3 separate regions of the Homo sapiens genome follow, and regions 2 and 3 are each linked to region 1. The links come from fine-mapping of genetic effects on gene expression. A gene starts in region 1. Each other region holds a variant in brackets. All regions are shown on one strand. Distances are between the middles of the regions.

The links. PIP is the estimated chance that this variant, and not a neighbour inherited with it, causes the effect. A credible set is the group of variants that fine-mapping cannot tell apart.
Region 2: its variant is the best candidate, but not a certain one, in a credible set for the expression of PTDSS2 in whole blood (TOPMed, PIP 0.55).
Region 3: its variant is the best candidate, but not a certain one, in a credible set for the expression of PTDSS2 in cerebellar hemisphere (GTEx, PIP 0.88).

What each region holds. Positions count from the first base shown.
Region 1 is chr11:446,756-453,558 of GRCh38, reverse strand. It overlaps PTDSS2 (phosphatidylserine synthase 2), which reads right to left and starts at 3,280. Exons shown (of 12, transcript NM_030783.3): 1 at 2,922-3,280. The coding sequence starts at 3,103. RefSeq lists silencers at 2,596-2,685, 2,696-2,755, 2,946-3,185, 4,813-5,122, 5,213-5,502 and enhancers at 3,216-3,495, 3,094-3,780, 5,513-5,652.
Region 2 is chr11:549,358-554,109 of GRCh38, reverse strand. It overlaps LRRC56 (leucine rich repeat containing 56), which reads right to left. Exons shown (of 14, transcript NM_198075.4): 7 at 4,112-4,208; 8 at 3,838-4,038; 9 at 2,808-2,979; 10 at 2,283-2,459; 11 at 2,143-2,207; 12 at 1,878-2,020; 13 at 1,408-1,541; 14 at 1-147. Among named protein-coding and RNA genes, the nearest start is that of LMNTD2-AS1, 7.5 kb to the left of the region's middle. RefSeq lists an enhancer at 4,327-4,752. The variant C/T (reference allele first, on the strand shown) is at 2,705.
Region 3 is chr11:410,722-417,524 of GRCh38, reverse strand. SIGIRR (single Ig and TIR domain containing) reads left to right here and starts at 2,526. Exons shown (of 10, transcript NM_001135054.2): 1 at 2,526-2,702. RefSeq lists silencers at 294-343, 554-633, 664-783, 844-913 and an enhancer at 1,434-2,053. The variant T/C (reference allele first, on the strand shown) is at 4,069.

The DNA.
Region 1 (6,803 bases):
GGGGTATCTGAAGGTCAGAGGTCACCTCACACATAAAGTCCTCAGGTCACTGAGAAGGCTCATTTGAGGCACCCCATTCCAAGACACAAGCATACAATAAAAACTCTCAGAACATCACAGTGGCCCCCAGCTCGGGAACTGGTTAGCAAGTGTGGTCATCCGAAGCTGCTTCAGCGTCTCCCACAGACAGGCGGCAACGTTCACAGGCACCTCGCCAGGGTAAGGGGTCCCCAAGTGTTCTCCCAAACAATTTCCAGACCGCATGAGCTGCCACATCTTCGCACAGGGCTTCTCGGAGTCTGTGGATCTAAACGTTTTCCTCTGGATGTTCCCCATAATTGTCCTTGCTACCCTGAATGAATCCAGAGAAGGAGAGCTCAGCCTCGTGCTCCCAGGGCCAGTCAAGCCCTGAATCGAACCGCACGCCCTATCCCTATGGCTGACAAGCAGTCACAGAGAAACAAAATTCACACATGGCCGCCGTCACTGGCCCGAGGAAGTGCACCCATCCTTGAAAATGAACGCCCTGGCTGGATGTGGTGGTGCATGCCTGTAATCTCAGCAATCTGGGAGGCTGAGGCGGAAGGATCACTTGAGGCCAGGAGTTGAAGACCAGCCTGGGCAACACAGGGGGACCCTCTATTAAAAATAAATAAATAAATAAAAATGAATAAAAAATAAAAAGTAAAACTCTCTAAAACACAAAATTAGAGTTAAAAAAATGCCAGCACAGCAAGTCAGTGCAGGTGGACTCAGGAGGTCAGTGTGAGGCTCTGCAGGTAATGAATTCTCACCAGGCAGGCATTGAGTTACCTGCCACCCAGAAGCGTGAAGCTCCTTCCTCTGCACAGGGAAGGGAGGAGGCACAGCAAGAACCTGCCCCATGCGTCTCTACAGGGACAGGGTCGAGGGGAAAGCCAGAGCCAGAGCCACCCACCCAGAAGACCCAGGAAGGAGGTACCTGGACCAGCCAGCCCCGCTGCACCCGCTCCTGGAGAGCCCTCCTGACCCCCTTGGCCTCCTGACAGGCAAGCTCTGCTGCGCCCAGCCGTCTGTGTCCCAAACACCCCTTGTGGGCAGGGACCACTGGTCTGGGCTTCTAAAGAGACCGGCCCCCTCCTACCTTTGGGCTGCTGCTCCTGCTTCCCTGGTACTGGGTGGGCTGCGCAGGCTTGCATGTGCCCCCTGGCTCCTGCCACACTCAGCACCCAGCCAGCACATTTTGAGCCTTCTGAAGTTCCATGCCTGCACCAGAATCTAAGCTTCTTGTTTAGTTCTCTGCTATGTCCCGTAGAACGGTAACTGACAGGCAGTAGGGGTCCCCACAATGTGCTGAACGGCCAAATGAGAAACAAGAAGAGCCAGTCTGGTCTCCTCGCTCCGGGACCTCAGAGGAGCCCGTCTGTTCTCCTTGCTCCGGGATGTCAGAGGAGCCCGTCTGGTCTTCTTGCTCCGGGACCTCAGAAGAGCCAGTCTGGTCTCCTTGCTCCAGGACCTCAGAGACTCCGGTGGTCCCCAGCTGTGCTGCGGGAGGACAGCCTGAAGGGGTGTGGCAGGGCACCTGATGGAGAGGCCTGATGTCCACAGGGCCCGGAAGCCAGAGGGTCCACGTGGCAGGCACCCCATCTCCTCTCCCTCCCGAGGGCCCCGCAGCCACCCGGTACACTCATCTCCCCAAAGGAGAGCTCGGATGCCCTCCCTGCAACAGCAGCTGCCCACACCTCACGGAAGACCCTGCGTGGGGCCTCCTCCACCCTAACCTGCTTTCCCACCACTTGGACAGTCTCTCTCCAGAGCTTCGGCTGCGGTGACAGGCCAGGACCGGTTAAGTCCCTGTCTGTGGTGGCGCCTTCCCCTGACAAGTCCCTTACTCCTCCATCAGGCCCTCCTCGCCCCTCAGATTTGCTCTCCGACCATCCCACAGCATGGTTCTCTTGGAAGCGTCCATAAAGCCTTCCTTCCACTGCTGGCCGCAGGCGCCTGTCTCCCACACGTTTTCCTGGGGCTGACCCCACCTCTACTGCCCCTGTGCCCCCGGGCCTTCCACAGGATGGGAACTGGGCACCTTGCAGTCAAGAAGAGCCAAACCCTCCTCTCACGAAGCCTGCTTTCAGGTCGACGGCTTGATCCTTCTCACAGAGGAGCATCGGCAAAGGGCCAGCCCAGGGTCGCAGCTGTCGGGAGTAGGAGCGGCACCTGGAGCCTGTCTGGACACAGAGTGCCACACTCCAGCTGCTCCCGGGGGCCTCTTCCTTTTCCACCCCCATTAAAGGCAGAGTGGCGGACAGGGGGACCCCAAGGTGTAGCTAGGGCTGAGTTGTGCAGGGAGGAGGCGCTGGCCCCGCTAGGGGCAACTGAGGAGAGAAACAGAGCCTGGATTCGACGAACACCGACTACATTCCTGAAGCACGCACAACACTCTGCTAATCAACACGATCGCCACGTGGGGTCGGGCGCGACACACAAGATGATTTCGTGCAGCCGCAAGCACTGAGGAGCAACCACAGGCAGAATGACGGGGGACACAGGTGAAGCTTCGACAGCAGGACAGAGAAAGCGTTTCTGGGGTGACGCTGGAGGCGGGTGGCGGGGAAGGGGTCTGGATCGCAGAACCGCGCGGTCAGAGCCAAGGCGGGCAGGGGTGGGGAGGGCGGCGAGAGAGACGCAAAGCGGCCGCAGGGAGGGTCTGCCCAGGGTCTCCCCCACCTACAGCGCCGCCCTCCGCCCGACCCGGCGTCGGGAGCTCGGTCCGGCCGCTCCCCGGGACCCGGGGGGCGGTGCTGCCACACCCTCAAACCCCCGGCCACAGTCCTGGACTCCAAGACGGCGAGAGGGCGCTGCCGGGGACCCCCAGGCCAGCGGTGCCGGAACCCCCAGGTCGAGGGCACCCTCGCCGCCCCGCGGCCGCCCACTGCCCTCACCAGAAGAAGGTGTTGGTGCCGTCGTCGTAGACCTCGGACTCGGTGCTGCGGCGGCCCTCGCCCGGCCCGGTGGCTTGGCCGGCAGACGGCCCGTCAGGCGGCTCCTCCAGCGAGGCCCTGCCCGCGGGCACCGGGGACTCGGGCCGCGGACCTCCGGCGTCCCTGCGCTCGCCCCTCCGCATGGCGTTTCGGCCCGGAGCCACTCCGCCCGGCGCCTCGACCCCACGCACACCGGGTCACCGGCGAGAGGACGCGCCGCACACAGCGCGAGGAGCGCTGGGAAGGGGTCGCGGCGCTGGCCCGCGGGGTCTTAGGAGAGCAGCGCGGGGCCGGCCAGTAAAGGGTGTGCGGTGCATTGTGGGGCTTGTAGTCCGCGCGGGGCATGCTGGGCCTTGTGGTCCGACGTCGCGGGTTGGACGCAGTGCTTGCTGGGAAGGATGACGCCTGGTTGCTGGGAAACCGGAGCCGGACCGCCCTGCGGCTGAGGTCGCAGGAACCAAGCTGCGGATGGCGCGGGTCTCGCCAAGGCCTCCAGAGCTTGGAGGTAACCACAGACATCCCCGGCGGCCTGGCCCGAGTCCCTCCACCCCTTCGCCCCTTCCTCGCCGACGGATCCCGGAGCCCAGCCCCGTTCTCCTTTTGGGGCGCTTCCCGACCCTTCACCCCATGCGACCCGGGTCATTCCTTTTTGAGACGGAGTCTCGCACTGCCGCCCGAGCTGGAGTGCAATGGCGCGATCCCGGCTCACTGCAACCTCCGCCTCTCGGATTCAAACGATTCTTCTGTCTCAAGCTTCCCGAGTAGCTGGGATTACAGGCGGCCGCCATCACGCCCGGCTAATTTTTGTATTTTTAGTAGAGACGGGGTTTCACTATGTTGGCCAGGCCAATCTCGAACTCCTGACCTTGTGATCTGCCGCCTCGGCCTCCCAAAGTGCTGGGATTACAGGCGCGAGCCACCGCGCCCGGACCGGTCTGGGTCATTCTTTCGCAGGATCGCGTGAAATTGGGCGGGCGAAAATGGTGCGGACACGCTGATTTTAGTTGACCCAAATTGTTGACATGGTACCCTGCAAAAAAATTAGCTCCTGAGCCACTCTGAAAAGCAATGTGGCAGCTCCTCAAACCTGGAAACAAGTGTCCACGCCAAATTTACACACTAGCGCTCCTAGTTGCAGCATTTTGATAATAGCGGCATGTTATTAGCCATAGAGGAGCGAAGCATGCGCATGCTACAGCACAGCTGGACCTTGAAAACATTATGCTAGGCAGGCCGGGCGCGGCGGCGCACGCCTGTCATCCCAGCACTTTGGGAGGCCAAGGCGGGCGGATGACTTGAGGTCAGGAGTTCGAGACCAGCCTAGGCAAAGTGGTGACACCCCATCTTTACTAAAAATACAAAAATTGCCCTGGCATTGTGGCGGGCGCTTGTAATCCTAGCTACTCGGGAGGCTGAGGTGGGAGAATCCCTTAAATCCGGGAGGTGGAGGTTGCAGTGAGCCGAGATTGTGCCACTGCACTCCATCCTGGGCGACAGAGCGAGACTCCGTCTCAAAAAAAAAAAAAAAAATGCTAGGTGAAAGAAGCCAGTCACAGGAGACTACGCATTATGTGATCCATTTGTATGAAATGTCCAGGAAATGCAAATCTATGAAGACAGAAATTAGATGAGTTTTCACCGGGGGCTGGGGAAGGGGTAATAAGGAGCGACTACAAAGGGTAGCAGGTTTCTTTCGGGGCGATGAAAGTGCTGTAATATTGACCTCAGCTCCTATCTGTGAATGTCCTAAAAACCACTCAACTGTCCACTCGAAACGAGTTGAATGGGTGAACTGCATGATATGTGAAGTATATCTCATATCAGCTTTATTGAAATATAACTCACATACTAAATATATAAACATATTTGCGGGGCTCCTGCACAGCCACGCCCAGCAGGGATGGGGCCTGACTGTGATGGGACCTTCACCCCAGCTCCTGACACACAGGCTGGGCAGTGCGGGAGGCGCTGGCTCCAGGGGGCGTGCTGTTGGGCCTCCCCAGGCCTGGCCCCCTGCCCCAGGCCCTGGCCGCGTCCAGCTGGGGTCGGCTGAGTGGCCAGAGCAGCCAGCTCCCGTCCATGCCATCTTTCCAGCAATCACCCGACAGGCCTGGTTCCCTGTGAACCATCCTTCAGGTCCCCTCCCAGACCTCTTCCCATCCCAGCAGGTGGCGCTCACATTCCAGGCGCCCTCTCGGTGGCGTTGGGGTCATTTCCTGCGTATGGGTGTTCTCTCAAACTGCACAGAGAGCCCTCCTGCCGTCCCTCCAGGGTGCAGAGGCCGGGGCGGGGAGATGTACCGGCCCCACTGGGGTCCCTGGCCCCAAGGAAGCTGCGCGCGAGGCCGCCTCGCAATGACGCTCGTTCCTGTCGGCTCGGGGGCGGGGCCCAAGGGCGCGTGAGGGGCGGGGCCGAGGACATGGTCTGTGGGCGGGGCCTGAGGGCGGGGCCTTGGGACCCGGAGTAGCGTGATCTAGACCGCGCGGCCCCGCCAGACCGCGCGGCCCCGGGCGCGCAGACCACGTGTTCGTTGCCCATCACTACGGAGCTCTGGCCACGTGCCAAGTAGAATTCCCAACGCTTTGTAAATGCTAACTATTGTGATTTTTTTTTTTTTAAGCGTAGTCTCACTCTGTCACCCAGGCCTGGAGTGCAGTGGCGTGATCTCGGCTCACTGCAACCTCCGCCTCTCGGGTTCAAGCGATTCTCCTGCCTCAGCCTCCGGAGTAGCTGGGATTAAAGGCGCCCGCCATCACGCCCGGCTAATTTTTGTATTTTTAGTAGAGACGGGGTTTCACCAAGTTGGCCAGGCTGGTCTCGAACTCCTGACCTCAGGTGATCCACCCACCTTGGCCTCCCAAAATGCTGGGATTACAGGCGTGAGCCACCGCGCCGGGCCAACTATTGTGATCTTAACACACCCCCTTAGGTTCTATTTTTGACTGTCGCTTAGAGACAAAAAAACTGTGGCAGAGAAGGCCGGGCGCGGTGGCTCAAGCCTGTAATCCCAGCACATTGGGAGGCCGAGGCGGGTGGATCACAAGGTCAGGAGATCGAGACCATCCTGGCTAACACGGTGAAAGCCCATCTCTACTAAAAATACAAAAAATTACCCGGGCGTGGTGGCGGGCGCCTGTAGTCCCAGCTGCTCGGGAGGCTAAGGCAGGAGAATGGTGTGAACCTGGGAGGCAGAGCTTGCAGTGAGCTGAGATCACGCCACTGCACTCCAGCCTGGGTGACAGAGCAAGACTCCGTCTCAAAAAAAAAAAAAAAAAAAAAAAAAGAAACAAACAAAAAAAAAACTGAGGCAGAGAAAGGTTGGTGACAGCTACGCCCAGCTCTTTCCAGACCCCAGAGCCTCTACCCTGAACCCCTGCACTCTACAGGGAGCTCTCCACCTGCAGTTTTGCACCTGGCGTCTCATATCTGAGTCTCACATTACCCTGTCCCTGTCTTCACCCCAGCTGCAGAAGTGCACACCCCTCCCCACCCAGGCATGTGTGGACTGGCAGAGTCCATTGCAAGACGTGGGCCTGAGGGGCAGGGGTGAGGCCGGAGGTTTGTGGCTCAGGGAGCACCGTGGCTGGTGAGGAGGCAGTGGAGCAGCTTGGAGGACTTGGTTCTTTGAGGCCCCAGAGCAGCAGAACTGGGGGTCCCCCGCCTGGGGAAGGGTGCACGGGACAGAAGCCTTCCTCAGCTGCAGAGATGCCTGCCAGAAGCCTCAGGGCGCTGGAACTTTTAAGAAAATGGTCAATTCTGGCCTTACCCAGGGACAGAGCTGGCCAGAGTCACATTTATGGTGGTAAATAGTGAATGTTGGCGAAATGCTTTCTAAAAATGCCC
Region 2 (4,752 bases), 100 kb before region 1:
CAGGCCCCCAGCTGCCCAGGACTCGGAGCCGACGCCCCCTGGACTGCAGGTCTGTCGACCACCGCGGGGAGCTGCTGCCAGAATCTCGTGGCCTTGGGTGCTTGGGAGGTGAAGGGACCAGGTGCTGGCTCGAGGTCCCGGAGGGCTCTAGAAAGCAAGCAGAGTGATGGGACGTCAGAAAGGCTGTCAGGGAAGGGAGTCACCCGGTGGGGAGGCCACAGCCCACCCGTGGCCCTGCAGCCCCGAGGCAGTGGTCCTTGGGGGTCCACAGGCAGCAGCACCCCTGCACCCCACTTTCTGTGTTCCCAGCCCTGTGACCCCTGACTCGCATGGGCGGGCCCACCTCTGGGGCAGGCAAGGAGGCCACGAAGCCTGGTTCTGGCCCTGGGTCCTCTGTGTCCTGTCCCTGAGAAGGAGACCACAAGGCCTGGCTCTGACCCTCGGTCATCTGTGTCCTGACCCTGAGAGCCTGTTCACTGGCTGACCGCCCCGGGCCGGTTCCCAAGCCTTGGGTCCCCCAGCACCCGCCTCCACCGGTGTCTGGAGCCCTGGCATGCCTTTGTCCTGACCCTGCCCTGAGGCCACTGCAGCTCCCCTCCTCCTGGCCGCCCTGCCTGCCCTCCCTCCACCCCTGCAGGTCACGGCCACTAGGTAACCAGCTGTTGACCCCTCTGTCTGCCCCCTCCACAGACACCCACCACCATATGGAAGAGCAGAGGCTTGGCCTGCCCTGTTCCCTGCCCATCCCAGCCCCCTTAACCAGGCTCCTGCACAGAGGAGGGTCAGCTGCCCACCGTGGGGTCGCCCCTGCTTACACTGCCCCCTGCCCGGCCTGCCTGCCCGCTGAGGGAGGGTCCTCTCTGCTTTGCAGCTGTGATCACACTGAAGTCAGTGTCCTTCGTAAAGGGCACTGCATGGCTTAATTCTATGTCCCCAAGTGCGCGTGCCATCTTCAGGGTGAAGCGGCAGCACCCTCCTGCCTTGGTCTCCCAGTGGGGCTGCTGGCCGCCTTTCCTCCCAGCCCCCGGACTCATGCCTGTGTCCCTGAAAGCTGCCCAGTGGCCATGTTCTGCCTGCTGGTGCCCTGGGGTGGCTCCTTCTTTCTGTCCCGACTCCTCTGGACTCTGTTCATACCCCCTTTTGTGGAACGCCTCTCTTTCGTCCAGCCCGGGTGGCACACAAGGTCACAGGGATTGGACCGTGGCTTGGGAGAGGACTTGGGTTGGGCCTCCCTTGGTCGTGAGCCCCCCACCCCCAGAAGGGGGCCTCCCTGTTACAGTCCCTCTCAGAGCATGGCTGAGGAAGCAGGGCCAGGTTGACACATCTGATCTGGGGTAAGGGCCCCCCTATAGAAGTGGGGTGTTGGTCACTCCCAGGCACTGGGGGGCAGGCGGGCAGGCTCAGTACCTGAGGCCAGGCTTGGGGGGCTGGAGGGAGTCTTGGGCTCTGCCTGGTGCACTTGCTCTTCAGGGACCCTCCGTGGGCCCCAGGGGGCTACAGCCCCTTCCTGTTGGGACTCCGGGTGCCTATAGGGGAGGGGGCTAGGGTGGGGAGAGGAGGAGAAGCTCCAGCCCTGATCCCCCCACGGGACAGGACACATAGGGATGGTCCATGAGCCTTGGGACTGGGGATGACTCAGCCAAGGTAGCCCCAGCCCTGATCCCCCCACGGGACAGGACACACAGGGATGGTCCACGAGCCTTGGGACCAGCGATGACTCAGCCAAGGTAGCCCCAGCCCTGATCCCCCCACGGGACAGGACATGCAGGGATGGTCCACGAGCCTTGGGACTGGGGATGACTCAGCCAAGGTAGCCCCAGCCCTGATTTCCCCACGGGACAGGACACACCCAGTGGAAGAGCTGGAGGGACACCCACCGCACGCCATGTTCCCTCCAGGCCCTGAGCCCAGCCAAGGCCAGGAAGTCAGAGCTGTCTGCAGGGTCAGGCTCTGGGGTGGAAGTGCTGGCGGCCGGATCTCCTGGCCTGTGTTGGGGCAGCTGCTCGGGGGGCTCCCTGGCCTGGGGAGGAAAAGGGACTGCTTTAGGGATTCTGGCCCTGGAATGGCGGCAGGGCAGGGCACTGTCAGGGCCGCAACCCTGGACACTGGTTCTCGTGGGGGGCTGGTCCCTGTGGGCTGTACCTGGCACTGGTGCCTACGCTCCCGCAGGCCCTTGGTGGGGTTCCCACAGAGGACTTGGCCAGCACCTGCAAGAGACAGCATGGCTGGGCCTGGTTCGGGGCCGAGGGGCTGCAGGGTCAGCTTTGAGGCAAGTCAGTTACCATGGGTGAGGCTGCTGGTGTTATCTTCTGGGGCCAGGTCCTCAGAAAGCAGGCCTTCAGGCAGGGGGCCCCCACGGACCAGCAGGGAGAAGGGCCAGGGCCTGGAGGCCCGGGACTGCGTCTCAGGCAGGGACAGCTCGGGGTCAAGTCTCCGGATGGGGGCTCCACGGGGACAGTCTGCCCGAGGTTCAGAAGCAGAGGTCACCAAGGCCCAGCCTGAGAGCGCCCCCCAGACTCTGTCCACAGACCAGGGGCCCCAATCCCCATGCTGCATGGCCTGAGGCTGGCCTCTCACGCTGCAGCCTTCTAGAGAGGCCCTCATCTTCAGACCTTCCTCTCCCTCTGTGGGCTGCTCAGAGACAGTGTCCTGGCCTGGGGCCGGGTGTGCACAGCTCTGGGGACCGGGGTCAAGGCTGGAGAAG[C/T]GCATGAGATGTGGCTATCCGTTTCTGAGAAGCCTGGGGTGGGGGCCTCTTCCTGGGGGGAGCTGGGGCTCAGCAGTGGGTCCTCCGGGCGCAGCTGCCGTACCCAGCGGGGGAAGGCCGTTGCCCTTCTTGATGGCCTCCTTCACCGCAAGCCAGTCCTGGCTCAGCCGCGGGGGGGCCGGTGGGCCTGTGTGTGCGGCCGGCACTTCGTCCAGGACCTGCAGCTGGGGAATGAGCTTCCTCACCTCTGCCCTGTAGTTGTAGCCCCTGGGCACCTGCAGGGGGAGGGGGAGGGGGAGGGAGGGCAGGTCTGGGTCCAGTGTTTCCTTCCGGCCAGCTCTTTCCCTGGCTCCCTTTCCCAGACCCACCGTGGGGCAGGGCAGGGGCCCAGAGGTGGGGATGCTGCCTACCCTGCAGGGGTGGGCTTGGGTCACTCTCACACCCCAGGGACTGAGGGACTGGGCTCTCACCTGCTCAGGATGTAGGACCCCACTCTCCAGACCCAAGGCCGGGTCCAGGGATGCCCTCTGGCCCATGGAACTGCCCTCAGCTCAGGGCTCTGGCCCACGGAGCAGTAGCTACTGGGCACTGGTAGACGCTGACCTCAGCATGTGGCAGCACCAAGCAGCAGCTAATGAGGCTAGCACTGTGAGCTCAGGGCAGATGTGCCCTGTGTAGGGTCTGTGAGCTACGCCAGGGCCTGCACGCACAGGTGTGCCAGCTCTGAGCAGGGCACGCAGAGCCCCGAGATACTGCATAGGGTGGTCTGTGGGGCCTGTGGGGCTGGAGGTGGCTCTGGACAGGGCGTACACAGGTGTGTGTGTGCACACATCCGTGTACACGTGGTTCTTTGTGTTTCCACGTGGCTTATGTGTGGACCTCACAGGTGCATATGTGGGTTAAGGGACATGGCGTGTGTGCAGGTGACCCTGTGGGATCTAGCGGGGCTGGTCCAGGAGGGTGTCCTGGGAGCCGTCAGACTTCCAGTGACAGAGGAGGTGAACTCATGGTGAGCAGGCCATAGGGTGCGGGTGGGCACAGAAGTACCTGGCCAGAGGAGGGGCCCCGGGGCTGGAGCCACAGGGAGCCTCTCCTGGCCATGCACATGCTGGCCGGGTGCCCGGGACACGCACCTTGTTGGTGGGGCCAGGGGCCGGCTGTAGGCACACCAGGTTGCCCTCCAGGGTGAGCATGGCCAGGCGTGGGCACAGCTGCAAGTAGCGCACCTGCCCCAGGTCCTCCACGCTGTTGCCCTCCAGGTCCAGCACCTCCAATTGTTCCAGCAGGCACAGTGGGCTCAGGTCCGAGATGTTGTTGTAGGAGGCGTAGAGTTCCTGGGCAGCGCGGGGCTCTGAGCCAGGGCCCGGCCCAGCCCAGGCCTCCCCAGCCCAGGGTGCCCAGACTCACCTTAAGTGCTGGCAAAGAGGCGATGCCATCCAGGTCAGCGAGGCCACAGCGAGCCAGCCACAGCACCTGCAGGTGGCCCAGAGACGTGCCCAAGTCCCTGCAGAAGGCAGGGTTTGGTGGTCAACATGTGCCCAGCCCTGTGCTCAGCCACCACCTGCCTTTGGCTGTCTTCAGGGGTAGGGGCAGGTGTGACCACCTATGGTGGCCTCTAGACTGAGGAAGGGGCTCTCTGCCTTGGCCTTCTGGCTCTGGTGTGGGTACAGTGTCCCCCACCTTCTCCAAGCCCTGGAGGGCCTGGCTTGGGGAGCTGCCCTCGTGACCGGTGGCTCAGCTGTGCCCAAGGCGCTGCCCTCATAGTGGGTGGCTCAGTCCCCTCCCTGGCAGGCTGCAGGCATCACCTTTCTCTTTCTAATTGTCTCCTCAGTAGCGTTTGGGGCACTCGAATTTGGAGTAAGGGTCTGGAGTGCTGCCTGGGAGCCTGAGCCCCTGGACACCGATGTGGGGGGCTTCGCTGGAGGCTGACCCCGTGCTGAGCTGGCAGCTTTTGTGGGGACCAGCTGCTGGAGGTGGCGGTGGGTCAGGGCGGCTTGATGTGTGCAGGGACAGGTTGCTTCCTGCCGGGCCCACCCTGTTCCCACTGT
Region 3 (6,803 bases), 36 kb after region 1:
CGGGCAGCAGCGCAGCCTCCAGCGCCAGCCTTGGGCGCAGAGCGGGACGCTGGGGTCCGCCCCCGCCCTGACTGCGGGGCGGGGCCGCACCTGCTGCCGCTGCCGGGGCTACGCCGCCGCCGGGGCTGTTGCCGCTGCGCACCTGGCTCAGGTGAGCTGCCCCGCCCCCGCCCGGCGCGAGCCCCAGGTCCTGGCAGCAGGTGAGTGGCGGTCGCCATCAGACCCGCGAAGGTGAGTGGAGGTCGCAGTCCTCCCAGAGCCGCTGCAGGCCTGGAGTCGGGGCCCGGGGCGCTGCTTGTCCCTGGGCGCGGTCTCTCAGGAAATGGCTCGGGGCCGGGGAGGTTCCCGCGTCGCCCGGAAGCCCGAGCTCGCCCGCGTCCTGGCCCTTTCCAGGGCTGGGGGAAGGGAGGAAAGTGGGCGAAGGGGGCGGGGGCCACCCTTTCCTCTGCCCGACGTGGTCAGCGGCTTTTTGGTGACCCTCGCGCAGAACAGAGCGGGGCTAGGAGCGCCGAGGCGCGCAGGGATCCCACCTCGGTCGCCCAAGCCTGGATCCCAGCTCGAGGCTTCCTGAGGCGCCGAGGGCGGACCAAGAGTCAGGCTGGGGCCCGAGCTCGCCCGGCGCCGGGTGGAGCTTCCGCCATCCGCGCGCCTCTGCCCCGGCCGAGCGCCCCGAGCCGCACCCCCGTGCCCGCCTCCCGCGCGCGTCCTCGTTCTCCGCCCTCCTCACTTGGAGGGCGCCCAGGGCGCAGGTGGGCGCGGGGTAGGGGAGCGAACCAGAGCCCCTCGGCCTGCGGGGCCGCAGCCTTTTACCCACGTTCCTGCTTCAGGACAGGCGCTGGGGGCCCAGCGCGCACGGGGAGCGGAGGGGCGGCGCGTCCGAGCTGAGCGGGAGTCGCCCGCAGGGTGCTGGGTGCTGAGCGTCGAACCCACCGGGCAGGGGCGGCCGCGGACCGAGGACGCTGGCTGGGTCTGAGGGCGGGAGGAGCTGGCGCTTTCTAAGAACCTCAAGGTGCCCAGCAGAGTGCGGTGGGCAGTGCGAGGCGACCAGGGCCAGGCTTGGACTGAGATTCTGGGCGCCTCGGAAGAGCTGTGCGGGCGAGGGTCGGAGACTTTGTGGGTGTTCATGCTCACCCTGGACGGTGGACCTGGGGGCTCGGGGGTGCAGGACGTTAGCAGAGAGAGGGAAGGAGAGGGTGCCAAGCCAGCCCTGAGAGATGGTGACGCTGAGACCGGGTGCACAGAGCAGCCGCCGAGCCGGGGCTTCACAGTTGGCGGCTGACCCCAGGGCCTGTGCTGGAGGCCCTGCTCCTGCTTCCTGCGGGGGTGCCCTGGGCCCTGCTGTGCCTGCTTCCTGACCTGCAGTGTGGGGAGAACCTTCTTGAGGGGCTTCCAAGGACCCACTTCAAGGAGGGGCTGGTACCAGGCTCTGTGGGGGAAGGGGTGCTGTCTTTGGGACCCTGAGCCCAAGGCCCACCATCACCCAAGGCTGAGTACCGGGACAAAGGAAGGTCCTAGCAGGGCTGGGACTCAGTCAGACAAGTACCTGTAGAAAGCCTGCTGCTGAGAGGGTGCTCAGCCAGGGCCGGGAGGCTGGATGGCAGCCCTCCACAATGAAGCCCTGCCCCCATGTGGCTGAGGGCAGGGCCAGGGTCCAAAGGAGACCCTTGTCTGATTCTGTGGGCAATACCAGCCACCGGTCACTGGGTCCCCAGTCCCAGGTCAACCTGGGGAGTGTCAGTTTGGTGACAACAGGAGATGCCATCTGCCCCTCATCTGCTCTGAGCCAGGAGCCTCGGCCACCTGTGTTTGCTCCTTATTTGGAAAAGGGGGCGCTGCCCTCCCACCCCAGCCTGAAGGGAAGGTCCACAAGATGCCATAGTCCCTTGTAACTGCTCACCCATCGGGGGAGCTATGTCTGGGAGAGGGACGGGGAGAGGGCGGAAGAGTTCTGCTGGAGCCCCATTGTTGACCGGGAGTTTCTGAAGGCCCTGTTCCCCGGGGTCAGAGGTCAAAGACACATGGGGGAGCAAACCGGCCCCTTGGCTCCTGAGTGTGAGCTCTAGTAGCGTCTGGAAGGCATGCCGCGCGGTCCCCGGTCCTCCTTGTATGTGTGCAGGGTGGCCCTGGCGGGGGTCTCCTGGCTGGAGGACCCCCCATGCATTACCCCTGGAACCTGCCCCTTTGAGCACCCCCCACCCCACAACACACACGCACACACACAAACGCACGCACACGCACATACTGCACACACATTGCACACACGCAGACACACTGCACACACACACACACACACACACACACACACACACACACACACGCTGCACAGAGGAAAGTGCCGTGCCTGGGTGGGTTGGGGCGGGCTCCAGAGGAAGGAGCCGCTTGACTCAGAGCTACAGGAAGAGCCGGGGCAGGCGGGGTGAGAACCACCAACTGCCCGTCCTCCCGCCCGCCTAGGGAAGGGGTGGGTGCCTGGGTGGGGTTTAGGGTTAGGAGAGGATGTGACTGCAAGGCCAGGAAGCTACAGGGAAAGTTCTGATCAAAATACACAAAGACACAAGCCAGGTCCCCACCGCGCTTGGCGATGCATCCATAGCAGCCTTGGTGCTGTGGACACTCCCTGGGGCCCAGCGAAGGGGAGAGTTTGCTCCCAAAGGCGCACCAATGACCAACATTTGCCCCCCGGAGGAAAGAACTGGAACCAGGTGACTGCCTTCCCCGCTGCTCTGAGTGAGCCTGTGTCAGGGCCTGGCTGAGAGGAGGCCCACGGCGCCCAAGACCCATATGCATGTGTGTGCATGTGTGTGTGAGACAGAGCGAGGGGCAGCAGGAGGCTGTGTCGCATCAGCGGCCAAGGGTGGGTGTCAGGTGCAGTGTGTGTGCTGTGGGGTGCCTGTGGTCCTAGGCTCTGTGACAAGCGTTGCAATGGGTGTTGTATATACTCAACAGTTGTGTGAGGGGTCTGCAGCCTAAGCTGTGTGCAGTGGTAATGGGAGGTGTGTGTGGTAGGAAGTGTGCTGTGTAGGAGGTGCAAGTGTGCACACGGGCTGAGACTGAAGCTCTGTGCAGGTGCACATGGGCCAGAGGGCTGTGTGTATGTGATGTGTGCAGGGGAGGAGGGGCAGAGGAGAGGGTGCAGGGGAAGTTAGGGAGGGGAGGGGGTACAAGGAAAGGTGTGCAGGGGAGAGGGTGCAGGGAAAGGTGGGGAGGGGAGAGGGTGCAGGGGAAGGTAGGCAGAGGAGAGGGTGCAGGGGAGAGGGTGCAGGGGAAGGTGTGCAGGGAAAGGTGGGGAGGGGAGAGGGTGCAGGGGAAGGTAGGCAGAGGAGAGGGTGCAGGGGAAGGTGTGCAGGGGAGAGGGTGCAGGGAAAGGTGGGGAGGGGAGAGGGTGCAGGGGAAGGTAGGCAGAGGAGAGGGTGCAGGGGAAGGTGTGCAGGGAAAGGTGGGGAGGGAGAGGGTGCAGGGGAAGGTAGGCAGAGGAGAGAGTGCAGGGGAAGGTGTGCAGGGGAGAGGGTGCAGGGAAAGGTGGGGAGGGGAGAGGGTGCAGGGGAAGGTAGGCAGACGAGAGTACAGGGAAAGGTAGGGAGGAGAGAAGGTGCAGGAGGAGGCAGGCAGAAGAGAGGGTGCAGGGGAAGGTGGGGAGGGGAGAGGGTGCAGGGGGAGGCAGGCAGAGGAGAGGGTTCAGGGGAGAGGGTGCAGGGGAAGGTGGGCAGGGGAAGGTGGGGAGTGGAGAGCGTGCAGGGGGAGGCAGGCAGAGGAGAGGGTGCAGGGGAAGGTGCGTAGGGGAGAGGGAGCAGGGGAGAGGGTGCGGGAAGAGGGTGCAGGGGAGGGTTTGCAGGGAGAGGGTGCAGGGGAGAGGGTGCAAGGAGAGGCAGGCAGCGGAGAGGGTGCAGAGGAGGGTTTGCAGGGGAGGGCACCTGCTTTCTTGCTGTGCTCGTATCCTGGCAGTCTGCCCTTGACTTCCAGAAGGCTCTGAGGCTGCTTTTGGAGGGAGGACTTTGAGGTCTGAGCTTGGGGCGGTCACGGAAGCACTGCAGGAGATGCCAGGGGTTCTGCTGGGCTGGCGGTGTGACC[T/C]CCCGGGCTTGCTGTGAGGGGTTGGTTTCCTGGGAAGTGTGTGCTTTAAGGACCCTCAGTGGGTGGTTCCCCTGGGTCAAGGACTTTCCTTGGAGTGTCCTCCACCGCAAAGGACTTCTTCAAGGACCCCCTGGCCATCCCCCATGGGTGTGTGCCTCATGCTGTATCGGTTCCCGAGGAAACTGCCAAACAGTCAAACCTGGGGCCTCTGGCTGTGCTTCACCCATGGAGAGGGAATAGGTGGCAGGCTAAGAGGACTGTCCCTGCCACTGCCTCTGGGGCCTTAGCGGGGAGGAATCCTGAGGGAGCTGGGGTGCAGAAACTTAGGCTTGATCCCCACATCCCCACTTCCACTGTGTCCCTGCAGCAGGGAGGGGAGTAGACAGTCAGTGCCTGTTGGATAAACAGGGTGACCCTGTGGCATCCAGTGAGGAGAGGCCCCTGGGGCCCTGGGCTGCCAAGGAAGAGGCTCTGGGCTTCTCCCTGCAGCCACCTCACTGAGGAGCTTTGGGAGACTTGAGGTGTGTGTGGCTGCTGCTACGGGCTGGGAAAGGACATGGGACCCGAGACCTCCATCCCCACCGGGCGCTGTTCACCCTCCGGCCTCACAACCGCAGGGCGAGGCTAAGCTGAGGGTTCCCGAGGTGTTTCCCGAGGTGTTTCGAGGTGTCTGTGCTCACGTGCACTCCTGACTGTAACCAGACGTGGGCCAGAGCTGGGCACCCCCCCTCGACTGCATCCAGACATGGTTAGAGCTGGGCACCCCCCCCCCCCGACTGTATCCAGACATGGTCAGAGCTGAGCACCCCTCCCCGACTGTATCCAGACATGTTCAGAGCTGGGCACCCCCCCCCGACTGTATCCAGACATGTTCAGAGCTGGGCACCCCCCCCCGACTGTATCCAGACATGGTCAGAGCTGGGCACCCCCCCCCGACTGTATCCAGACATGGTCAGAGCTGGGCACCCCCCGACTGCATCCAGACATGGTCAGAGCTGAGCACCCCCCCCCGCCCGACTGTATCCAGACATGGTCAGAGCTGGGCACCCCCCGACTGCATCCAGACATGGTCAGAGCTGGGCACCCCCCTCCCCGACTGCATTCAGACATGGTCAGAGCTGGGCACCCCCGCCGACTGCATCCAGACATGGTCAGAGTTGGGCACCCCCCCCCCGACTGTATCCAGACATGGTCAGAGCTGGGCACCCCCCGACTGCATCCAGACATGGTCAGAGCTGGGCACCCCTCCCCGACTGTATCCAGACATGGTCAGAGCTGGGCACCCCCCCCCGACTGTATCCAGACATGGTCAGAGCTGGGCACCTCCCCCCGACTGTATCCAGACATGGTCAGAGCTGGGCACCTCCCCCGACTGCATCCAGACATGGTCAGAGCTGGGCACCCCCCCCGACTGCATCCAGACATGGTCAGAGCTGGGCACCCCCCCCCCCCACTGTATCCAGACATGGTCAGAGCTGGGCACCCCCCTCCCCGACTGCATCCAGACATGGTCAGAGCTGAGCACCCCCCCCCCCCGACTGTATCCAGACATGGTCAGAGCTGGGCACCCCCCTCCCCGACTGTATCCAGACATGGTCAGAGCTGAGCCCCCCCCCCGCCCGACTGTATCCAGACATGGTCAGAGCTGGGCACCCCCCGACTGCATCCAGACATGGTCAGAGCTGAGCACCCCTCCCCGACTGCATCCAGACATGGTCAGAGCTGGGCACCCCCCCCCCCCACCGACTGTATCCAGACATGGTCAGAGCTGGGCAACCCCCACCGACTGTATCCAGACATGGTCAGAGCTGGGCACCCCCCGACTGCATCCAGACATGGTCAGAGCTGGGCACCCCCCGCCGACTGTATCCAGACATGGTCAGAGCTGGGCACCCCCCTCCCCGACTGCATCCAGACATGGTCAGAGCTGGGCACCCCCCTCCCCGACTGCATCCAGACATGGTCAGAGCTGGGCACCCCTCCCCGACTGTATCCAGACATGGTCAGAGCTGGGCACCCCCCTCCCCGACTGTATCCAGACATGGTCAGAGCTGGGCACCCCCGCCGACTGTATCCAGACATGGTCAGAGCTGGGCACCCCCCGACTGCATCCAGACATGGTCAGAGCTGGGCACCCCTCCCCGACTGTATCCAGACATGGTCAGAGCTGGGCACCCCCCCCCCCCGACTGTATCCAGACATGGTCAGAGCTGAGCACCCCTCCCCGACTGTATCCAGACATGTTCAGAGCTGGGCACCCCCCCCCCCGACTGTATCCAGACATGGTCAGAGCTGGGCACCCCCCTCCCCGACTGCATCCAGACATGGTCAGAGCTGAGCACCCCCCCCGCCCGACTGCATCCAGACATGGTCAGAGCTGGGCACCCCCCGACTGCATCCAGACATGGTCAGAGCTGGGCACCCCCCTCCCCGACTGCATTCAGACATGGTCAGAGCTGGGCACCCCCCTCCCCGACTGCATCCAGACATGGTCAGAGCTGGGCACCCCCGCCGACTGTATCCAGACATGGTCAGAGCTGGGCACCCCCCTCCCCGACTGTATCCAGACATGGTCAGAGCTGGGCACCCCCGCCGACTGTATCCAGACATGGTCAGAGCTGGGCACCCCCCTCCCCGACTGCATCCAGACATGTTCAGAGCTGGGCACCCCCCCCCGACTGTATCCAGACATGGTCAGAGCTGGGCACCCCCCGACTGCATCCAGACATGGTCAG